Linked DNA regions of Homo sapiens: regions 2 and 3 are each linked to region 1. A link means that fine-mapping ties the variant in region 1 to the expression of a gene that starts in the linked region. Tissue or cell type: monocytes. Region 1 holds a variant in brackets; each other region holds the start of a gene. All regions are shown on one strand. Distances are from middle to middle.

What was found.
Region 2: it holds the start of ING2, and the variant in region 1 is fine-mapped to the expression of ING2 in monocytes (Quach 2016, PIP 0.95). The same link has a PIP of 0.9 or more in monocytes after LPS, monocytes after Pam3CSK4 and monocytes after R848.
Region 3: CDKN2AIP starts here. The variant in region 1 is fine-mapped to the expression of CDKN2AIP in monocytes (TOPMed, PIP above 0.99). The same link has a PIP of 0.9 or more in blood mononuclear cells, macrophages after interferon gamma, monocytes after LPS, monocytes after Pam3CSK4, monocytes after R848 and monocytes after interferon gamma.

The regions. Positions count from the first base shown.
Region 1 is chr4:183,462,608-183,470,787 of GRCh38, forward strand. No RefSeq gene overlaps it. Among named protein-coding and RNA genes, the nearest start is that of CDKN2AIP, 22 kb to the left of the region's middle. The variant C/T (reference allele first, on the strand shown) is at 3,504.
Region 2 is chr4:183,500,910-183,509,089 of GRCh38, forward strand. ING2 (inhibitor of growth family member 2) reads left to right here and starts at 4,149. Exons shown (of 2, transcript NM_001564.4): 1 at 4,149-4,458. The coding sequence starts at 4,287. ING2-DT (ING2 divergent transcript) reads right to left here and starts at 3,606. Exons shown (of 3, transcript NR_033995.2): 1 at 3,267-3,606. RefSeq lists silencers at 3,231-4,270, 4,491-5,210, 5,451-5,500.
Region 3 is chr4:183,440,690-183,448,869 of GRCh38, forward strand. It overlaps CDKN2AIP (CDKN2A interacting protein), which reads left to right and starts at 3,947. Exons shown (of 3, transcript NM_017632.4): 1 at 3,947-4,380; 2 at 4,846-4,976; 3 at 5,399-8,180. The coding sequence starts at 4,109. The coding sequence ends at 6,738. RefSeq lists a silencer at 3,422-3,971 and an enhancer at 4,252-4,401.

The sequences.
Region 1 (8,180 bases):
GGCCAGGTCAGGCTCAAACTTCTGACCTCAAGTGATCCGCCGGCTTTGGCCTCCCCAAGTGATAGAATTACAGGCGTGAGACACCGCAAAGCAGGAGTACACTCAAAAATAACAATGAAAAATATAGGATAGTAAATACATAAGCCAATAACATATCCCTTTATTATCAAGCCTTTCATTATGTGCTGTGCATGATTGTATGTGCTATACTTTTAGATGACCGGCAGTTCTGTAGGTTTCTTTACACCAACATCTTCACAAACACGTGAGTAATGCATTGTGTTATGATGGCTATGATAGCACTAGGTGATAGGAGTTTTTCAGCTCCATTATAATCTTATGGGACCACCACGGTATACATGGTCCATTGTTACCAAAACATCGTCATGCAGCACATAACTACTCATGTCTAAAAAAGCTATCAAAGACATTGGAAAAATTCCATATTCATACTTGATGTAAGTTCTTAACAGGAGTATACAAATACGTTGTTAGCATAATGAAATATATTTATCTCAACCACAAAGAATCTGTTTAATATGGAAACAGCGTGGATGTAATATTGAAACACTCCTGCTAAGTTATGGACAAGATAAGCACTTTTTTTTTGGTGGGGGGATGGAGTCTTGTTCTGTTGCCCAGGCTGGAGTGCAATGCCGCGATCTCGGCTCACTACAACCTTCGCCTCCCAGGTTCAAGCAATTCTCCTGCCTCAGCCTCCTGAGTAGCTGGGATTACATGCGCGTGCCACCACGCCCACCTAATGTTTGTATTTTTAGTAGAGATGGGGTTTTCACCATGTTGGTCGGGATGGTCTTGAACTCCTGTCCTCATGATCCACCCACCTCAGCCTCCCAAAGTGCTGGGATTACAGGTGTGAGCCACCCTGCCTGGCAAGTACTATCTTAAGCTGAGGAGATACGCCATTTCTCTTACTGTTTCCTGTCCCTGAAGAGAAGGAGGAAGTAAAAGCTGAAAAACAACAGAAATGAAGTCAGTGGCAAGACCAACCGGTGCCACTGACCAGGCCTGAGGTTAAAGATTAACCCCCCACTCTAACTACGTGTATTACCTATAGATCACTTGCTGGATATCTTTCACGTAGACCCCCATAGAGTTGTAAGCCCTTAAAAGTGTGTCCAGACTTGGTTCCCTCTGGTGGATTCTTGGTCTCACTGACTTCGAGAATGAAGCTGCGGACCTTCACAGCGAGTGTTACAACTTTTAAAGGTGGTGTGGACCCAAAGAGTCAGCAGCAGCAAGATTTACTGTGAAAAGCGAAAGAACAAAGCTTCCACAGAGTGGAAAGGGACCTGAGCAGGTTGCCGCTGCTGGCTGGGGGGTGGCCAGCTTTTATTCCCTTATTTGTCCCCACCCATGTCCTGCTGATTGGTCCATTTTACAGAGTGCTGATTGGTCCATTTTACAGAGTGCTGACTGGTGCATTTTTACAGAGTTCTGATTGGTGCATTTAATCCCTTAGTTAGACACAGAGTGATGATTGGTGTGTTTTTGCGGAGTGTTGATTGGTGCACTTACAATCCTTTAGCTAGATGCCAAGTGCTGATTGGTGCATTTTTACAGAGTGCTGATTGGTGCGTTTACAATCCTTTAGCTAGACACAGAATGCTGATTGGTGCGTTTACAATCCTTTAGCTAGACACAGTGCGCTGATTGGTGCGCTTTTATAGAGTGCTGATTGGTGCGTTTACAATCCTTTAGCTAGACACAGAGTGCTGATTGGTGCATTTTTACAGAGTGCTGATTGGTGCGTCTACAGTCCTTTAGCTAGACACAGAGCGCTGACTGGTGCATTTTTACACAGTGCTGATTGGTGTGTTTACAATCCTTTAGCTAGACACAGAGTGCTGACTGGTGCGTTTGCAATCCTCTAGCTAGACAGAAAAGTTCTGCAAGTCCCCACTCAACCCAGGAAGTCCAGCTCGCTTCACCTCTCAAAAAGGCCAGGAATTTTTTCTTCAGGGAGCTTGGTTCTTGAGATGCAAGTCTGCCAAGGTTCCCAGCTAAATAAAGCCTCTTCCCTCTTTCAGCCGGTGTCTGAGGAGTTTTGCCTGCAGCCCATCCTGCTACAAAGCAATATAATTAAATGAGAGAAAACCAGCCTGGTCAACATGGTGAAACCCCGTCTCTACTAAAATACAAAAATTACCCAGGCATGGTGGTGGATGCCTATAATCCCAGCTATTTGGGAGGCTGAGGCAGGAGAATTGCTTGAATCTGGGAGGTGGAGGTTGCAGTGAGCTGAGACGGTGCCATTGCACTCCAGCCTGCCATTGCACTCCAGCTGTGCGACAAGAGCGAAATTCTGTCTTAAAAAAAAAAAAATTCAATGAGAGAAATATATGTTTAAACATTGGAAAGAAGGTAAAATCATTGTTATTTAGATATAATTGTATACTAGAATTTCCACCCATAATCAATTTAAAAATCTAAATAAATAAGTGAATTCAGTCAAGTACCTGGGTATGAAATTAATGCCAAATACCAATACAAATCTGGTGCTTTAGAATATAAAAATAACCAACCAGAAGACATAATAGAGAAGACCTTATTTACAATAGCAACAGAAAATAAACTATTTAGTGATAAAGAAGCATTTAAAATCTGCATGCAGAAAACATTGAAATACTAAGGGACAAGAAGGAATTTTTCAACAAACAGGAAAACACATAAAGCTCTTAGATACAAAAATTAACTTCATAAGTGTAATAGTTATGTTTGTTTATCTATATTTTAACATGATCCCAAGAAAAATACCAAGAGGATTTGTATACTAGATAAGCTGATTCAAAAGTTTGTAGGAAAAAAAATATAAGTAGTCAGGAAAACTCAGAAAAAAAAAGAATAATGAAGGGGTATTATCCCTACCTGATATTAAAACATATTTTAACCCTATAAATAAAAACATATTTTAACCCTTGGAGTCATAAAAGTTAAAATTGTATAGTAGTGGAGCATAACAAGATAGGAGATAAATGGGAGAAAATAGAAAGTTCAGAAATCAGTCAAATTTTCTAGGGAATATAAAATATGATAAAAGCAGCATTTTGAACTAGTGGGAGAAAGATAGCTTAATCAAAAACTAAATTAAGTAGCAAATTGGAAATGAAATTAAGATCCATCTCTGCTCTCCAACTTACACCAAGATAAATTCAAAGACTTAAATATAAAGTGTAAAACTATGAAAGTACTAACATGAGCAAATTAATCTTGAAGTATGGTGTGGGGTGGGGGCTGGTGCTTTCTAACTTTGACACAAAATTCAGAAGCCATTAAAGGAAAATACCAATTACTATGCTGATATGTTTTGGTTGTGTCCCTACCGAGATCTTAATGTGAATTGTATCTCCCGGAATTCCCACATGTTGTGAGAGGGACCCGGCGGAGGGGGGGTGATTGAATCATGCAGGCCAGTCTTTCCCTTGCTATTTTTGTGATAGTGAATAAGTCTCACAAGATCTGATGGGTTTATCAGGGGTTTC[C/T]GCTTTTGCTTCTTCCTCATTTTCTCTTGGTGCTGCCATGTAAGAAGTGAATTTCACCTCCCCCCATGATTCTGAGGCCTCCCCAGCCCACATGGAACTGTAAGTCCAATTAAACCTCTTTTTCTTCCCAGTCTCAGATATGTCTTTATCAGCAGTATGAAAACAGACTAATACAGTAAATTGGTACCATTAGAGTGGGGTGTTGCTGAAAAGATACCTGAAAATGTGGAAGCGACTTTGGAACTGGGTAACAAGCAGAGGTTGGAACAGGTTGGAGGGCTCACAAGAAGACAGGAAAATGTGGGAAAGTTTGGAACCTCCTAGAGACTTGTTGAATGGCTTTTTCCAAAATGCTGATAGCGATATAGACAATAAGATCCAGGCTGAGGTGGTGTCAGATGGAGATAAGGAACTTGTTGGGAACTGGAGCAAAGGTGACTCTTGTTATGTTTTAGCAAAGAGACTGACAGCATTTTGCCCCTGCCCTAGAGATTTGTGGAACTTTGAACTTGAGAAAGATGATTTAGGGTATCTGGAAGAAATTTCCAAGCAGCAAAGTATTCAAGAGGTGACTTGGGTACTGCTAAAGGTATTCAGTTTTGTAAGGGAAGCAGAGCATAAAAGTTCAGAAAATTTGCAGCCTGACTATGCAATAGGAAAAAAAAAAATTTTCTCGGGAGAAATTCAGTGCAGCTGCAGAAATTTGTGTAAGTAGCAAGGAGCCTAATATTAATCCCCAAGACCATGGGAAAAATGTCTCCAGGCCATGTCAGAGACCTTCATGGCAGCCCCTCCCATCACGGGCCCAGAGACCCTGGAGGAAAAAGTGGTTTTGTGGGCCAGGGCCAGGGTCCCTGTGCTGTGTGAAGCCTAGGGACTCAGTGCTGTGCGTCCCAGCCCCTCCAGCTGTGGCTGAAAGGGGCGAACACACAGCTCGGGCTGTGGCTTCAGAGGGTGGAAGCCCCAAGCCTTGGCAACTTCCACATGGTGTTGAGCCTGCAAGTGCACAGAAGTCAAGAATTGTTTGGCAACCTCTGCCTAGATTTCAGAAGATATATGGAAATGCCCAGATGCCCAAGCAAAAGTTTGCTGCAGTGGTGGGGTCCTCATGGAGAACCTCGCTAGGGCAATGCAGAAGGGAAATGTGAGGTCAGAGCCTCCACACAGACTCCCTCCTGGGGCACTGCCTAGCAAAGCTGTGAAAAGAGAGCCACCATCCTCCAGGGCCCAGAATGGTAGATCTACTGACAACTTGCGCTGTGCACCTGGAAAAGCCACAGACACTCAATGCCAGCCCATGAAAGCAGCTGGGAGGGAGGATGTACCCTGCAAAGCCACAGGGGTGGAGCTGTCCAAGACCATGGGAATCCATCTCTTGCATCAGCGTGACCTGGATGTGAGACTTGGAGTCATAGGAGATCATTTTGGACCTTCAAAATTAGACTGCCTGCTGGATTTTGGACTTGCACGGGCCCAGGAACCCCTTTGTTTTGACCAGTCTCTCCCATTTGGAATGACTCTATTTATCTGATACCTATACCCTCATTGTATCTAGAAAGTAACTAGCTTGCTTTTGATTTTACAGGCTCATAGGTGGAAGAGACTTGCCTTGTCTCAGGTGAGACTTTGGACTGTGGACTTTTGGGTTAATGCTGAAATGAGTTAAGACTTTGGGGGGTTGTTGGGAGGGCATGATTGGTTTTGAAATGTGAGGACAGAAATTTGGAGGGGCCAGGGGAAGAATGATATGGTTTGGCTGTGTCCCCACCCAAATCTCAACTTGAATTGTATCTCCCAGAATTCCCACATGTTGTGGGAGGGACCCAGGGAGAGGTAATTGAATCATGGGGACCGGTATTTCCCATGCTATTCTCATGATAATGAATAAGTCTCATGAGATCTGATGGGTTTATCAGGGGTTTCTGCTTTTGCTTCTTCCTCATCTTCTCTTGCCGCCACCATGTAAGAAGTGCCTTTTGCCTCCTGCCATGATTCTGAGGCCTCCCCAGCCATGTGGAACTGTAAGTCCAATTAAGCCTTTTTCTTCCCAGTCTTGGGTATGTTTTTTCAGCAGTGTGAAAACAGACTAATATATCTGTTTACATAGAAAAAATCTGCAAGGCAAAATCCTTTGACAGAGTATCCGTCTTTGTGGATAGAAAATTGTAGCATTTTAAAGAATCAAGTTTAAAATACACAAGTACACTAAGCGTTAAGTGTTTGTGGACAGGGATGACCTGCTTTTGCACATCACCAAACCTTATGTTCCAGTGTGGGGGGTGGACAATAAATGTTTGAAGTCTCTATGGGACAGAGGAGTTCCAGAATGCATGTGCCACAGTGGGCTGAGACATCACCCTCTGCATACCGAATCACCTCAGTCCCCCAATCTCCTCTCGGATGCCATGACTGACAGCAGTAAATAAGCTCTCGCCGTTGGAAAACTGGAGTGAAAGTTTCATTCTAAAAGAAGAATTTTAATGCACTGTGACTCAGCTGCCCATTCCTGTTGTTTTGCTGCTGTAAACATTGCAACACATGGATTGTGCAGGGTAGAAGTGAACTGTATTATTACTTATTAACTTTTGCTTGCAATTCTCGTCTAATATTTATTATGCCCTCTGTTCATGTTTGTTGGTGTTTTTTAAAGTCTGATGGTTAAATGTAGCAGTTTTTAAGGAAAATATACTAAATGGAAGAGCAGTATTCATAGGCTTATACCTGTGAATAATTCTGATTAAAGCTAATTACAACCTTCTGAGTCATTTCATGATTCAGCATTAATATGATTAAGGATGCACCAAAAAGTAACAATCAAAGTTACTTGTTGATGAGTTTTAGGTGGTCTGGTAATTCAAGTTGGCCTAGTCTGTTATATGTTGAGTGTCATCTTACAAATACAGCAGTGGCTCCAAAAAATTGGAAAAGAACCTACCTACAAATCACAGCCATTTAATAGTAAAAGTGCTGATGTTTTTTAAATGACTATTGGAAATTCCAAACAGGGAAAGCTCTCGCAAGAAAAAAAAAGAAAGAAAGAAAGAATGAAAAGAAAAGATAATCACATTCAGTGGAAAGGCTTACAGCAACTTATTTACTAGCTGGACTAATTGCTCAAAAAAGGAAAAGTCACACCATTGGTGAGAATCTCATTAGGCCAGCATGTAAAATTACAGTGAGTAAAACGACAAGATAAGATGCAGTATAAGAAGTTGACAAGGTTCCACTTTCAACAGTATAGCTCAACATAGTGATGACATGTCACATGATGTGGAAGAGGATTGGAATATGCTACCCCAAAATATGCCACTGTGGCATATGAATTATTTTGAGCTGAAGGCATTTGAGAATTAGCAGATGCAAAGAGAACCTTCCTGGGGCTTTCCCTATCTGACTAAAAGCAGAAATGCCTGAGAAATGAGAACTGCCATAAATCTCCTCTCCCAGGGACATTTTATGACCATGAAGAAAACAGAAAGTTGGCACCAAGATGGACCTGCACAAACCAACCTTACTAAATTAACCCTTATCTTCCATTACTTTCCCCATATGTCTATGATCCCACAGAGGGCAGCCCCTAGAAGCTTAAAACCCTTTTCCTGCTGGTGTGGTGGCTATACCTGTAGTCACAACTACTCAGGACTGAGGTGGGAGGATTGCTTGAAGCCAGGAGTTCCAGGCCAACCTGGGCAACATAGCAAGACCCCATCTCTCTTAAAAAAAAGTCCTTTGTCTTGTCACTTTTCCACAATTTATTGCTCTTTGTTGAAGATGGTATATAAGCTCTCAGATCTATCTGCTTATTTGGCTCTTCACTTCTTTTCCAGGAAGGCCCTTATATATAAAGATTAAGATCAAATAAAATTTGTATGTCTTTTCTCCTGTTAATCTGTCTTTCATCAGTCTAATCTTCAGTGCCCCAGACAATGAACCTAAAGGAGCAGAGGAAAAAGTTTATATTCCTTTCCTGTGATGCTGAAGAATTTTGCGTAATGAACTGGAAAACAATAGCTTCCTTATTCAGGTTGATGAGTCAACAGACGTTACCAATAAATATCACTGGGTAGCACTGGGAAGATCTGTAAGTAATGATGAATCTCAAGAAACCTTCCTGCTGTAAAAATTCACCTCAAGGCCAAGACACATTTAAGGTTCTGTCTTCCTACCTGGAAACAAAAGCTCTGTCTTGGAGGAACCATGCTCACAATCTGGACCATAGGGTCCCACGCATGGATGGTTCCATAAGAATTTTCACCTCTTGGCTGGGTGTGGTGGCTCACGTCTATAATCCTAGCACTTTGGGAGGCCAAGGCGGGCAGATCACCTAAGTCAGGAGTTTGAAACCAGCCTGACCAACATGGTGAAAACCTGTCTTTACTAAAAATACAAAAATTAGCTGGGCGTGGTGACGGGCGCCTGTAATCTCAGCTACTCTGGAGGCTAAGGAAGGAGAATCACTTGAACCTGGGAGGCAGAAGGTGCAGTGAGATGAGATTACACCACTGCACTCCAGCCTGGGTGACAGAGCAAGACTCCATCTCAAAAAAAAAAAAAAAAAAAAAAAGAATTTTCACCTCTTGTAAAGAAAGAAAATTCTGACAAAGTCACAACACACTACTTTCTTTATAGAAAGGTATTGAAGTAAAAAACTCTTGGAGGTGAAGTGACCAAAGTTCT
Region 2 (8,180 bases), 38 kb after region 1:
AAAACTGAGTTCAGTGGAGACGCACACCATTAGGTTTTGTTTTTTTTTTTTCTTTGAGACGGAGTCTCGCTTTGTCGCCCAGGCTGGAGTGCAGTGGCATGATCTCCGCTCACTGCAACCTCCGCCTCCCGGGTTCATGCCATTCTCCTGCCTCAGCCTCCCCAGTAGCTGGGACTACAGGTGCCCGCCACTACGCCCAGCTGATTTTTTGCATTTTTAGTAGAGACGGGGTTTCACCGTGTTAGCCAGGATGGTCTTGATCTCCTGACCTCGTGATCCGCCCGCCTCGGCCTCCCAAAGTGCTGGGATTACAGGACTATTAGGTTTTTCTTTAGTTGCTTTTTGTACTAATGAATTGATTTAAAGTTTTAGGGTTTTTCACTATAATTTAAGATGCTTCACTGGACCTTCTAGAACAAATTACACTCTAACACAGCCTCCTAGATTACTAAGGATTTATTTATTTGCATCAGGTACAATTACATTTCTTACAACACGCTATCAATTGGTGACTTTTCATATGAGGATTTCTTCTTGAATTTCTCCATATTTAAAGCAGTGATTTTAAACTACTTAAATATCTTCCTCAGAAAAACATTGCTCTCTGCTTCACTGAATTAAACAGGGAATTAACTGCCTCTTACTGGTTTGGAAAAGACCTCAGTAACCAAATAAAATGCATGGGATTTGCTGGATCCTGTTAAACCAAATGTGAAAGATTTACTGAGACAATAGGAAAATTTGAATTGTGTAGTTATTAAATGATAGTAAGAAAATTTGGGGAGGCAGAATACATGGTATTACGGATATGCTTAAAAAACTGTTATCTTGGCCAGGCATGGTGGCTCACGTCTGTAATCCCAGCACTTTGGCAGGCCAAGGCGGGCGGATCTCTGGAGGTCAGGAGTTCCACACCAGCTTTAACCAACATGGTGAAACCCCCTCTCTACTAAAAATACAAAAATTAGCTGGGCATGGTGACACATACCTGTAATCTCAGCTACTTGGGAGGCTGAAGCAGGAGAATCGCTTGAACCTGGGAGGCGGAGGTTGCAAAGAGCCAAGATCGCCCCATTGCACTCCAGCCTGGGCGACAAAAGCAAGTCTCAGTCTCAAAAACAAACAAACAAAAAACAACTATTATATTTTACCTATTCATATTATTCATATTTAAAGTATTTACAGATAAAATGATAAAAATCCAGCAAGAGTGAGGGAATGTGAAGGGCTATAGATTAAATAATCTTAGCCATATGTTGCTAAATGTTGAAGCTGGGTAGACGGTATATAAGGATTTATTGTAGTATTACTTTTGCCTTTGAAAATTTCCATAAAAGTTTAAAAATATTAAAAAGTAGAAAAAAGAAAAGGATTTCATTTATTTGATCTGACTCAAACAGAAGCTGAATTTTCTCAGCAGGCATCTTTAGGAATCTTTCACCATTACTTGCCAGTTTGTTTTCAACCAGTTTGAAGTTGTTGCTCTCCCCAAGAGACAGGTACGGAGGCGTACACATTTCCTGCCAGGGACCTCTTAAAGTCAGACTTAGAAATTCAAGGTAATCCCAGACTAATTTGGGGAGATCAGTTACTTATCTTTTTTTTAGGGTTGCTTTATGGTAGATAATACACTGTAGAGCAAATAAAATGCCTTTTTGCTTTATTCACAGGATTAAATACCATAAATTAATTTCTAGTTGCTGAGAACGGGAGATTTTAAATTTTGCATTTAGAAGACAAGAAATTCAATCTGAAGAGGCCCCATATTTCCAGTTAAGTGACCACTCAGAAGGGAAGGACAGCGCTCAATAACCAAGGTCAAGAGTTGGGTTTAGGGTTTGTGGCGATTTTTTTTGGGGGTGGCAAGAATAAGCCGTAGATTAATCTCTTAAAATAAATATAGCAAGAAAAGCATGCCTAAAATAATTCATACATATACATATATTATCATATTACAGTGTTTTACAGTTTTAGATCAGTACCAGCTAAAATATTCTTTGGATTGTTTTTGCTTTTTTACCAGCCTGTTCAACAGAATTATAAAAGGTGACAATAATGCTATAAATGTCTCCTATCCCATGCTCATCCCTCCTCTCATCTTGCTCTGTTTCTGGAGTACTCTAGGTATTCTGCATCTTTGCCTTTTTCCCCTTCTAGTTTCTAAACACATTTCTTATCTACTTGCAGATCACTTATCAGACTGAATAAAATCCATAGGTACATTCGGTGTCTGACCTGTAACAAGGCACCCCACATTATTTTGCGCCTTTGATAAAGACCAGCTTATTCAAACTTGTGAGAAAACAAAAATAGCAGGGTTCAAGTAAAAACCAGTAAAATTCAGTTCTTCACAGTGGCGGTTTTTTGACAAGACCCGGCCGAAAGATTTCACGAACAGTAAAATCCCAGAATGTTCTCAGAAATACTATCCACTGTACTGTCTGGGTTGCTTAATACTGGCCCAAACCTCAGTGTCCTAGGATAATAACCCAAGACAATTTCCCAGTCCTTTGAAATAGTTGACGTCCCAAGATGTCAAATTGCCTGGAGTGCTTTATTTTGGTTTGAAATTTAAAATTTCCTCTAGATAAAGATCTAGATTTCTCTTTGCAAGTCAAAGGCTAGTTACTATTAACAGCTGTTTCAAAAGTGCTCTAAATAGGTCACCATTCAGGTGTACCAACGCTGCAAACTGGATCTAAGAAGATCCAAATTTGTCACCACTCACTCACATTTTAACTCAAAGGTAGTACTCACAATTGGCCTTGTTTACATAGGCATTCCATTAAAATTATCCATGCATTCATTCTATTTGCACCCATTTCTTTCAAAAATGTCCATCTGTAATTAAAATCAGCTCCTCTGCCTGACATCTCATTTACACTACACCGAAATTAAACCCCACTAGGAGATCACGTAGATTATGGGGCCGAGGGCCCGCCCGCTGACTAGGTTTTCACTCGCGTCTCCTCCATGCCCCAGGTCCCCTCCGATTGCAGTCCTGGGGCAGGACTGAGCAAAAAGTCCCGTAAAGCTGGCGTGTGCCCCACTCCGCCAGGAAGCCTCACCGACGTCCTGTGCTTAAATGTTCTGACACCCCCCAAAAGCAGTTGTTTTTAAAGGCTGTCTGTGGGACCAATGCGTTGTCAAACAGATGCCGTCCCGCATCCCCTCCCCCTAAATGACACAGAAGATTCCAGCGTAGGGGAAGGGCCACGAAACCCGCAGGGCACACGACGCCGGGGGCCGGAGGGAGCACCGCCTACCTCCCTGATCAAGCCCCGCGGTGCCGGGCGAGCCCGAGGGCCCGGCAGGAGGCGGGCGGCAGCCCCAGGCGAGCTCGGAGGCGGCGGGAACGCAGCCGCCGCGCATGCCGGGAGCCGCACGCCGCCCGCCGGGGCGCGCAGTCCCGCAGGCCTCGCTCCAGGTCGTCCGAAAAGGAACCGCCTGCTGCTCCTTTGCAGGCTCGCGAGGAGCCGCACTCGGACCGCCTGATGGGGAAAAAGCCGGTGTGGCCGGGCGGAGCGAGCCGAGCGGAGCTGGAGCTGCCCCTCCCAGCGGGGAGGACGGCACGAAGGACCGAGCCGCCTCCCCTCCCGGGTCCCATTCAGACGCGAGGCGCAGAGACTGGCTCCCCGGGCTTCCCCTTTAAGGGGGGCGGGGCGCGGCCTGCCGTTTGGCCGCCCCCCACACCCTCCCCCGCTAGCCCAGAGCCGGCAGACCAATCGCCCGGGCGGCGGAGCGAAGGCGGGAGAATGCGAACCCTCCGGTAGGCGGTAGGGGCGGGCCCCGGCCTTATTCGCAGGGAGCGCTGCGCAGGCGCAGAGGCGGCCGCGGGCGGAGGGGCGGGGGCAGGCTAGCGGGAGGCTCTCCGTGAGGCACGGAGGGTGACTGGGGACAGGCGGGCGGCGACGGGCTTGTCATGGGGATCCGGGCTGCGAGACGGCACTCGTAGCATCTGGGGACTCCGAGGGGGACAGGAAGTGTCAGCGCCCGGGACCCCGGCGCCGGCCCCGCCGAGGGGATCCCCACTGCTCCGGTCCTGGAGCGGGAGGGGAGAAAGGAGGGAGCCCCGGTTTCGCCCCGCCCCTGGGCTGGTGCTGCGGGGGCGGGGAGTGAGGGCTGCTCTGGGGGGAGTGGAGATCGGGGAGCGCGGCCGTGCCCTCTCGAGCGGCTGCGGGGTCCCCGCGGCGCCGGGCTGCTGAGCTGAGGGCCCGCGGCGGCCGCGGCCGGTGCATGTGCGGCTGCTGGATGCGGAGGCGGCGGCGACGGCGCGGATCGGCAGGATGTTAGGGCAGCAGCAGCAGCAACTGTACTCGTCGGCCGCGCTCCTGACCGGGGAGCGGAGCCGGCTGCTCACCTGCTACGTGCAGGACTACCTTGAGTGCGTGGAGTCGCTGCCCCACGACATGCAGAGGAACGTGTCTGTGCTGCGAGAGCTGGACAACAAATATCAAGGTAGGAGCCGCGGGGCTGCCGGCCTCGGGAGCCGGTGGCGGGGAGCCTGTCCGGGGGAGTGCCACCTTCCCTTTCTCCCGTGACAGTCTCCCCGAGCGCACCGAGGGTCTGCCGAGCGGGACTGGGAGGACTGGAGACCGGGTTGGCGGCCCTCCGTGGCCCCGCGGTGGGCGAGTACTTCTCTGGGGTCCCCAGAGTGGGGGTGGGGGCCGCTTGTCAGCCCCCGCTGCAGACCCAGCGGCTGCAGCTGCCGCTGAGGGGAATCAGCCATTTTAAGCAGCAAGCATTTGTTCAGGCGCTGGCCCGCCCCGTGCCGCAGACCCTGCGGCCCCGGCCCGGGACTGCAGCCGGGCAAGGGTCGGAGGGAGTGAGCGGCCGGGCTCCCGCTGGTCTGCGGGGCGCGCTTCCCCACCTCACTCGCCCCCACCCCGGAGTGCGGGTGCTTTGGAACGTGCGGGGGGAGGGGGCGAGAGGCCGCGGAGGCGGACTGAGGGGGCCTTCCTCCGCGCTCCTGCCCCGGCCCGGAGGAGAGCAGTCCGTTCCGCTCTCTCGCCCCGGGAAAGTTCGCGGGCGCCCCGCGTTGTAGCCCTAGCCCAGTTCTTTCGGCAAAATGGTTAAGAGGGGAGGGGTCCCCCGCGGGAGAGGAAGAGAGGGGCGTGTGTGGCGGGGAGGGCCCCCGCGCCGGGGGCGGGGCCTGCGGGCTTGACGAGGGGCGTGGGAGGGGCGCGGCGCGCGTTCCCGCGGGCCTGGAAAATGGCTGGTCGCGAGAGGGGCGGTGGCGAGCTGGCTGCTGGGGAGGGAGTCGGGGCTGTGCGGGGGCGTTGGTTCGGCCCCAGCGGAGTCCGAATCGGGGTTTGCAGCATGTTTTGCGGTGATGTTTCCAACCTCTTTCCCAGTCAATGGATCAGGACGGCGATCAGCAGCTCGGACCGTCGCGGATCCTGGCTCCGCGTAGGTTCCGGGACATGTGTCACTTCCGGGCTTCAGGAGGAAGTGGGTTGGTTGACTGGGCAACCGCCTGGCGTCCCCGAGCCCCTCCTTCTCCGACTTTAAGTGTGGAGGCGAAACCACCCTTTGCCGGCCGACCCGGGAACCCGGGACAGAATCGACCTTCCTTACAGTGTTACCACCTACTATCGGTGGTGCTACTAGGAGGGCAGTTTAAAAGGGGAAATGTGTTGCGCTTAATAACCTTGAATCGAGGAACAGACCTTGAACATAGTATGGAAACAGCCATACGAACTTTAAAGATAATTTCCTGGACCCATTCTCTGTTTTTGTAGACACGCCAGTAATCCTATACTTTAAAAGTCTCTAAGGAATCCACTTCTTGGGTGACATAAGTGTCTGATGTTTTTTAGTTTATAAATTTGTTTCTGTTTTCTGAATCCATAGGATTCATAGGACTGATCCGTGTTTGGGGAGGGGGTGGGGAGGGAATTAAAACTGATGCGCTGGGTCCAGACCATTATATAAATATTTCTTTTACAGATTACAAAGAGTTCAAGTAACTCGTCCAGTTAATTCGATGTAGAATATTTGGCTCCAGAGCCTGCTACTGTAGATGCATATCTTTGTTTTCAAACAATTTAAGTTTTAATAAAAACTGTCCAAGGGGATTTCTACAGATATGGAGCACAAACATGAATGGTAACCTAAAAATGATACGTGCTTAATAATTGTATATGGAACCTTTCTAGTTTTTCAGATAACACCAAAGTTTGTAAAGCTTGTAGTTTGTGTTGTTGTTTTAGACAGAGCCTTGCTCTGTCCCCTAGGCTGGAGTGCAGTGGCTCGATCTTAGCTCCCTGCAACCTCTGCCTCCCGGGTTCAAGCGATTCTCCTGCCTCAGCCTCCCGAGTAGCTGGGATTACAGGCAACTGCCATCACGCCGGGCTAAGTTTTGTATTTTTAGTAGAGACGGAGTTTCACCATGTTGGCCAGGATGGTCTTGAACTCCTGACCTCAGGGGACCCGCCCGCCTCGGCCTCCGAAAGTGCTGGGATTACAGGCGTGAGCCACCGCGCCCAGCAAGCTTGCAGGTTTTTACATTTCTTTGAAGGCACATGTTTCCTTTCACAAGAGTTAAGCTATTTGAAGTTGGTGAGGGATACTATAATTTGTTGACAGGGAAATCTTTCGGATCATCTATAATTGTCAGGTATTAATAGCTCTGGTAACATTAGTAATATAGTAGGCCTTACAAGATTGAGAGATTATACAAATTCTTAGCTCTATGAAGTTTGTGATTAGTGATTAAAAACTCATCTAGTTTTCACTCTGCACGTGGTTACTGAGCTCAACTTTCACAGTTTTATGTTTATGTATATTTTGGGTTCAGATTTCATGTTTTTTATATCTTCACTAGTGCTTAAGTATTTTCTGGTTTTGGATCTAATATTTCTAGCAATATTTAGTGATATAAATTATATAGGCAGTCAAATTTCTTTCTAACCTACTTGAGACACTTTCAGAACTGCTGAAAAACTTATAAAATGAGAAATAAAGAAGAAAACAATTTCACAATTGAAGTACTTATTATGGGATAGGGTTATTAGAGAACCTTTATTTTTATTCTAGTGTTCCCACTCATAATTTCTTAGATAAATAACAACCTTCAAACTAAACTTTGATACTTAATTTCAAGTGCCTTTCATATAGTTTATAGAAAGTGCTTACACTGCGAGGTCAGACATACAGATCTGGCACAGTTCAAAGTCTGGGGTTCTTATCTCTTGAGTTGCAGTTTTTTTCACAAGCAGAAGTGATGGCTTCCTCATGGGGTTGCTGTGGAGATTAACTGAGAAAATCTTTACCACATAGAAGGGGCTGAGTAAATGTTAATTTCTTGTCTTCTTTCACTATATAATACGGTATCTTACAAATTTTTTATCTCATCTATCAATGTGCTGGTATGATATATACTGTACTTAGCCTCTAACACCTGATTATTAGGTACAAAATATTTGAAAAGAGGTTTGCCTCTTTTTTTTTTAATCCTCAATTTTTTATGTGTCTGAGGGAACCAGTTTCCTTATTTTTCCTGTAGGGAAATGAGGTTCTTAAGAAATCTGCTTAGATGCCGAGCTAAGCAAATGGAATAGACATGAACTTTGTTCGAAAATATGCTATGCAGGTGTAAGTACTCTGAACTGTGTGGTGGCACTTTGTTATATATTCCAAGTTAGACAGTTGTACATCAAGTACGAGTACCTGCGATTTCCAGGGAGAAGCTGATTAATGAGTTCTGTTGAATATTTGCTTTTGTGTGCCTTACTTGCAGACAGCCCCAATGTATATATCTACTTGCCTAACATTTCTGTTTTTAATAATTATAATATTGGAATATAAAACTAGTATGCCATGTGGTATGAAAAATACCATGCGGACAGAACTCTTTGAGATAGCATTACATCTTGTAAGAATAAGAAATAAAACGGATTCGAGCAAAACTAATCTTAAGTAAATTTTTGGTGACATCTGAAATTATATTTTCAGATTTTTGGATACCTTCTAGTGACTCAGCTATTTTTACTTGATTTAAGTAAGTGTATTCCACGTGCCATACAACTAAATCAGCAGTTCAGAAAGCTCAGAACCAACTACTGATTTATCTACAAAGGCAGAATGATCGAGTGCTGACTTTATTGTAATTTTGTTAGTGGTTTGGTCAGTTGATGCCAGAACCAGAACCTACTCTGGAAATAGTTTCATTTTCAGAA
Region 3 (8,180 bases), 22 kb before region 1:
GCCTGCTCTTCTGCCCTCTAAAATATCCATTGCGAGCATTCTCTGCACCATCAGATGGCCTCCATGTCAACGTCTCAGCTCCAAACTTACAAACGTCTTCTTTTAAAACAGAGGAAGTGTCTGCCCACCTAAGGTTAATCTCTCCACCTGTGTGTGGATCCCAGCCACACCTATGTCTGCAGAAATTGCTAATTACCCTCTTTTTCTTCAGATCCTCAAACTCTCCTTTTCTGTGAGTTGCCTTCAAGCAGTGGGCAACATGCTCAGGCTACTCCCATCTGAAATTGAAGCCACCTTGACCCCATGACCCTGTCCAGCTTCCTCTATCTTCTCCCCTTTACAGCCAAATATCTCCATTTCCGACTCCTGAACTCACTCTGATATGGAGTCTTCATCACTGCAGTAAAAACGGCTTTTGCCAAGCTCACAGGTGGCTCCAGTCCGTAATCAGACTGTTACTACCTATCTTCATCCTACTTGATTTCTCAAAGCTTCTAACAGAGGGGATCACTCTTAAAACATTCTCTTACTTTTTCAGAACATCCCACCTTATCACTGTAATTTGGCAGATTTGTGTCCTCACACATCATTAGCATAAAATATTTCCCCTCACCATGAAGTATTTCTCACATCAAGTCATAACCTTGGCCATAACTGGAGTATTTGCTCCTCACAAGCCTCTCCACATGCAGACCTTCCTGCCAAAGGCTTTCTTGCTTCCACAGTCACATCCAGGAACAGGGGCAATCCCTTCATGTTGCTCCATGGGAAAGCCATCTGCAGAAAAGCCAGCTTGCCGCTGGAATTTTTATTGGATGTCTTCAGAGAGATATGCTACAGAACCAGTTTCAGTGAATGGGCTTCCACTTACAGCAGAAAATTTAATCCTGTGAACTCAGTCACTTGTTTGAAACTCAATTTGGGATGATAGTGGATCTTTCTCAATTCATTAGAATTCTCTCCCTTTTCTCCTCTGAGTAGATTTCTAGTGAGGGCAGTGGTGGGGTGAGGCTTGGTTATCATCCTAGCATTGTCTTGTGCTTTCTTCCCTGTGGGCTCTGCTGGGAGTATAACTGCTTGATCTACCAGCACAAGCAATGCACACTGATCATTTCAGGAGAGGTTGAGGGTCCTCTCCTATTGATGCGGCCTGACGGGCACTGGTCTGATGACTTGCTGAAAACTAGCTGCATCTCCCTTTGCTGACAAGCTGACCACCCCTAGCCTCATTCACCTTGGACCCTGGTGCTTGGTAGGCACTTCACCATTCAACTCTTTCTTGGGAACCTTTTGGATCTCCTCTAGGCCCTGTGAGATATATGTGCGTAAATGCGTGTGTGTGTGTTATGTATATATACACACACACATATGTATATATATATACACACGTGTGTTAGGAGCAGAGGAGGGAGTTGTATAGTTGGTTATCAAAGCTATAAAAGGCCCTTTCTATGTTCATTTCTAAAGGCCAACGCATACAGGCTCAGGGCACGATTGGGCTGTCTTCTCTCAGAAACTCGGGCAGAGCCAAGTCCTTCTGCTCTTAGACCCAAAATCTACCTAGCAATTTCTAACAGCCAACACTTCCCACCCTGCATCTTATTCCCTACTCCCATAGACTTTCCTAGTTATCACCTAAATTCTCCTCTCACCTTTTCTCTCAGAACGTCTCCCCCAGCTTAGAGAGGAATTTGTCTCTGTAGGTGGGAGGGTCTTTAAAAAAAAATGAGGCCGGGCACAGCGACTCATGCCTATAATCCCAGCACTTTGAGAGGCCGAGGCAGAAGAATTGCTTGATATTAGGAGTTCAAAACCAGCCTGGACAACAGTGAAACCTTGTTTCTACAAAAAAATAAAAAATTAGCCTGTCGTCGTGGTACCCGCCTGCAGTCCCAGCTACTTGTGGTTCATAGTCTTTGAATCTTTATATGCAAAGTCAACTTTTTAAGAATCAAAAAAGAAAAATGCATGTATCTTTTATTCCAAGCACCTGGTTTTTGCACAAGTACTCCATCTTTCAGACTCTATCGCTTTTATTATAATTAAAAAAATTGTTTGAAATTCAGGCTCTACTTGTTCTCCTTTCAAGGCAATGAAGCCCATGAGTGGGAAGAAGACTACAGGGCAACAAGAAAAAAAGTGAGAACATTATTATTATTATTTTTTGAGATGAAGTCTCACTCTGTCACCCAGGCTGGAGTGCAATGGCTTGGTCTCGGCTCACTGCAACCTCTGCCTCCTGAGTTCAAGCGATTCTCCCGCCTCGGCCTACAGAGTAGCTGGGACTACAGGCACGTGCCACCACACTTGGCTAACTTTTGTATTTTTAGTAGAGATGGGGTTTCACTACATTGGCCAGGCTGGTCTCGAACTCCTGACCTCATGATTCGTCCGCCTCGGCCTCCCAAGGTGCTGGGATTACAGGCGTGAGCCACTGCACCTGGCCGTGAGAACATTCTTGATTTAAAATGCACATATATAATCTAGGTATGCGATCATAGCTTCTTTTACTTGCCATGGTCCCCTTGCCAAAGAATTCATGAAAGGAGAAATCGTAATTTCTCCACCTTTTAAATAGCCAGATTTCTGCAATCCGTCCACCCCCTCTAGATTTTCAGCAATTATCTGTGAAAAGGAGGAAAGAACAGCAAACTAGAAGCAAAATCACAAAGCTTCAAAATTTCTTTGTGCCTCCGTTTTTATGTAGTTTCTTTTGGTATGGCAGGAAAATGGGCAATATTGTTTTCATACAATAGCTGTATTTTGTTCCAGCATGCACATAAATTACACAGTTAACCTTATCTGATCTTACCTAAAGTGACCTTTTTTTGCTTGCTTATTCTGATTCATGCATTTTTACATCAAAGTCTACATTTATTGAAAGAAAAATTTCATAATTTATATCATTTAACGTATTTATCTTACAGTGCATGTATACCTGGAATGGGAAACGTAACAATAAGCCAGCCAGCAGTTAGAGTACGTAACTGTGGGAAATGTAAAGTGGAAAAAAATATATAGAAGGAAAAAACAGCTCTAACAGGGAGAGAGGTTTGGGGCCCTATAGATAAATAGGTACATTTCCACTCCACCTCCGGACATCTGCCGGTTGGTGGTAAAGCTGTTGATTTTAGGAAATTCTAGAGACAGAGCGTTGTCGGGGTGTTGTTTTCCTACTGACCAGAACAGGAAGGCAATGCCTGGATTAACTAGAGACCTAATAAACTGCGGGAACAAGCCCTACCGCTGCGGGGCCAGGGCCAGCTTCGAAGGCTGCAAGCCTCACGGCAACACGGAGCCAGGTCCTCGTGTGACCTTACTGTCTACTGCTGCTATGTAAGGGGACTGGCACTCCCGCCCTCCTGAAGGCGCGGAGACCCCGACGGCCTCGGAACGCTTCGCTCGGGCACACTGAAAGCAGCGCGAGACGCAGCTCCCAACACTCTAACATGGAGGCCGGCTTTTGTTTGTTTTGGCCCCGCTCACACACAGGCGTCTCAGGGCGGAGACCACAGGCCCCGCGGCTGCGGGCGGCTCAAGGTCCCCCGGGACGCCCCCCTAGCGGACTTTGGCCGCCGCGCCCGGCTGCCTCCCTTGCCCGGGCCCTGCCCCTCTCGCCTCTGCTCCCGGCGCCGCAGCTGACCCGGCGGGGGAGGAGGACGGCAGGAGCGCGCGGCGTCACAAAGCGAGGACAGAACGCCCGGGGTTCCGCCGAGACTCGGTCGTCCCAGGCCAGCTCGACTTGCAGTCCGCCCTCGTGGGGCGGGAGACGCCCGACGCCCGCCCACCTCACCCCCGGGGTGCCCTCCGTGGCCTCACGGGGACGCAGCGTCGCAGCGGCCCCGGCGCCGCAAAGCGTCTTGGGAGCGCCGGCTCGCGCCGGAAGAACGCGAGGGCGCGCGGCGGCGGCGAGGTTATAAAAGGGAAGAAGCCGGCGGTGGGCGGAAGTGGGCGGTTCGGCGGCTCTGGGCGCTGTTGTTTGGTCTTTAGGCCTGCGGAGGGGCGTTATCTGGAGGGCCGCGGGTGCAGGCCGCAGTGACAGGGCCGCTCGCCCCGCTAGTCCTGCCTGTCTCCCGGTGCAGCTGTGTTCGCGGCCTGCAGGCCCAACATGGCGCAGGAGGTGTCGGAGTACCTGAGCCAGAACCCGCGGGTGGCAGCCTGGGTGGAGGCGCTGCGCTGCGACGGCGAGACTGACAAACACTGGCGCCACCGCCGGGATTTTTTGCTTCGCAACGCCGGGGACCTGGCCCCCGCTGGCGGCGCTGCCTCCGCTAGCACGGATGAAGCTGCCGACGCCGAGAGCGGGACCCGAAACCGGCAGCTGCAGCAGCTCATCTCCTTTTCCATGGCCTGGGCGAACCACGTCTTCCTCGGGTGCCGGTGAGTGAGGCAGCGTCCCTAACCAGCACGCCTCGTTTTGTGTGCCACCTGCAGACCGGGGCCCGGCGCCCTCCGCGGGACCGGCCTCGGCGGGGAGGGGAAGTTGTGAAGCGCGGGAATCCGCCGGCCCGGCTGCCCTCTAAGGGGGAGAAGGGCGTCCCTGCGAGGAGCCGACATGATTCCCGGACGTCTGTGTGCCCGGTGGTGTGGGCGCAGCTGCTGGTAGGGTTGCTTGTGTTAGGGAACAACGCTCTTGGGGACGGGTGCGAGATTTAAGATTAGTGAGGAGGTGCCCTGCCTCCCAGACCCTGGGGCACTTGTTTATGGGGTTCCAGGAAACAGTTCTTGGCGGTTGGTTCACTTTCTTGATTGCAGCCAGGAAATGCAGTCCCTGTGGCCTGTTTTTTGCACAAGTAGGACCTTAGAAAAAACACTTTTTAAAAATGACTTTTCCTTCTTTTTCAGATACCCTCAAAAAGTTATGGATAAAATACTTAGTATGGCTGAAGGCATCAAAGTGACAGATGCTCCAACCTATACAACAAGAGATGAACTGGTTGCCAAGGTGAAGAAAAGAGGGATATCGAGTAGCAATGGTTAGCAGATCATAGATGTGAACATACATAGGAGTTTAGAGCATAAGTTTGATATAATTAGGAATTATTGTTACTAATTTTTTTAACAAGCCAGAATTTTTATGTTATTAATAAGTAATAAAGTTGGAATGTTAAACCTAAAGTATATATCTGTGTCTTTAGGCTTTGAATTTGATAGTTTGCTTTGACTGCTTTAGATTTTGAAGTGTCCACTGTTGTCTGATGCTGTTATTTTTTTAATATTAGACATTCATGATGTTATTCAACACTGTTTTAAGAAATTAATGACTCCACACTTTTTAAAGAAACGATTAGTCTTGAAATGTTTTCACTTTGTGCCTTTATTTTAATGTGTATTTGTCTCATCACCCGTTTTGTACGAGGTATTCTTAGTCACATATCTATGTTTTTCTTCTTTTTAGAAGGGGTAGAAGAGCCATCCAAAAAACGAGTTATAGAAGGAAAAAACAGTTCTGCAGTTGAGCAAGATCACGCAAAAACCTCTGCCAAGACAGAACGTGCATCAGCTCAGCAGGAAAACAGTTCAACGTGTATAGGGTCGGCCATCAAATCAGAGAGTGGGAACTCAGCTCGGAGCTCTGGCATCTCCAGTCAGAATAGCTCTACAAGTGATGGAGATCGATCTGTTTCCAGCCAAAGCAGCAGCAGCGTTTCCTCTCAGGTAACAACGGCAGGATCTGGGAAAGCTTCTGAAGCAGAAGCTCCAGATAAACACGGTTCTGCATCATTTGTTTCCTTGCTGAAATCCAGTGTGAATAGTCACATGACCCAATCCACTGATTCTAGACAACAAAGTGGATCACCTAAAAAGAGTGCTTTGGAAGGCTCTTCAGCCTCAGCTTCTCAAAGCAGCTCAGAGATCGAGGTGCCCTTGTTGGGCTCCTCAGGAAGCTCAGAGGTAGAATTGCCACTATTGTCTTCCAAACCTAGTTCAGAGACAGCTTCAAGTGGGTTAACTTCCAAAACTAGTTCAGAGGCAAGTGTTTCATCATCAGTTGCTAAAAACAGTTCCTCATCAGGCACATCCTTACTGACTCCCAAGAGCAGCTCTTCAACAAATACATCGCTGCTAACTTCCAAGAGCACTTCCCAGGTAGCTGCATCACTACTAGCTTCCAAGAGCAGCTCCCAGACCAGTGGATCTCTGGTTTCCAAAAGCACTTCCTTAGCAAGTGTGTCCCAGTTGGCTTCTAAGAGTAGTTCTCAGACTAGCACCTCACAGTTGCCTTCTAAAAGTACTTCACAGTCAAGTGAGAGTTCTGTCAAATTCTCTTGCAAGTTAACCAATGAAGATGTGAAACAGAAGCAACCTTTTTTCAATAGACTATATAAAACGGTGGCATGGAAGTTGGTAGCTGTTGGTGGCTTTAGTCCCAATGTGAATCATGGAGAGCTCCTAAATGCAGCTATTGAGGCTCTGAAAGCAACACTGGATGTATTTTTTGTCCCACTAAAAGAATTGGCAGATCTGCCTCAAAATAAGAGCTCTCAAGAAAGTATTGTTTGTGAATTGAGGTGCAAGTCTGTGTATTTGGGCACTGGCTGTGGAAAAAGCAAAGAAAATGCAAAAGCAGTTGCATCAAGAGAAGCATTGAAGTTATTTCTCAAGAAAAAGGTGGTGGTAAAAATATGTAAAAGGAAATACAGAGGCAGTGAAATAGAAGATCTAGTACTCCTTGATGAAGAATCGAGGCCTGTAAACTTACCTCCAGCACTAAAACATCCTCAAGAATTACTATAATGTGTCCAAAATATCACTGCATACAATATCTGGTATTTGAAGAGAAAAACTGACTTTTGTATAGTATAAAACACAGGCTTTCACAAATTTTGTATTGCTTTTTTTCCAGTTTTGCAGAAAATTTACATTCTAGTTCTCTTCACACAGTAGCAGTTGTAAATAATTTATGAATGACAGTACACATTAAAAGGTATGCATTAGCAGCATATTAGTATGCTGTTTTATTTGCTGAAGAAAATACTGTCTTCTATTTTTAATGATACATTAGGTACGATGTGTAGTTCGGTAGAGTCCTAAAATTTTTGTACTACTTTCAATTTGGTGAAAATGTATTAAGTTGTCTACCATGTTTTCTTTTCTAGCTGAATAAACCACATCAAAGGAAAGGGACCACAGTATTTGAATGTTTGAAAGTCTGTAAAGCTTAAGGTTTTAAAAATGTTGCCCGTAATGTTGAACGTGTCTGTTAAAAAATAAAAGAAAAAATAGTTGCTTCAAACTATTTTTATGAGAAGTTGTAAGCATTTTTTAGATATAAAGCAGTATAAAGTACTTGTTATTTTACTCTGAAGTTGTTTAAAATTCACCATGACTTTGACCGCTGAAGATTCTTTAAGCGGGTTAATTTATGTTTTGAGGTGGAATACAATTTACACTTTTTTCTTAAAAACATGAATGTGGGTTTCTATATTAAGCATATTTTGTGACTACTATTAACAGATTGATTTGTTTAGATATTAAATGCTTTAAGCTATTTTACCTTTTCAAGAAGTTGTGTTTTTTTTCTCCAAGTCAGAACCAATTCCTGCAAATAGGCTTCCCATGACTTGTCATTATAAATTAGACAACCAGGTAATTGTGTGATATACATCTTTATTTAATTTTTTTTTTTACAGCAATCCCCTGAGCCAGAATAGATTAAAAGCGATTCCCTTCAATTTTCAAATCTAGAACTGGATGGTTTTTGTGTTTATGCATCTTTTAGAATACCGGAAAGAACAGAGAGCCGTGTTCAGCTCTTGATAATGAGCCTATTCAATTTAACTACATTCGTTAAAATGAAGTGGAATTTTGTTTTCGTCTTAGGTGATTCTGCCTGTTTGTCTGTCATTGTATATTCTGTTTACTTTGCTTCAAACTGGCCCCAAGATGTTATTTTTGTGGTTTCTGGCTTTCTAGATTCTATTTTTAGATACTGCCCATTGAGCAATAATGGTGATAATATAGAGAGAAAAGAAAGACCTTTCATGGGCCAGTTGTGTTGGAATAGGAAAATCAAACGTAAGCACAATTTAAGTATGTAGCAGTTATTCCTATTTTGTATTCTAGGAATAAAAAGATACTTTAATTTTTTATGCTAGAATTACATAATTACATAATCAGATGTTTTAATTTTACCATATAACCTTTAAAAATGATTCATTTTTGAGGATATTTAATTG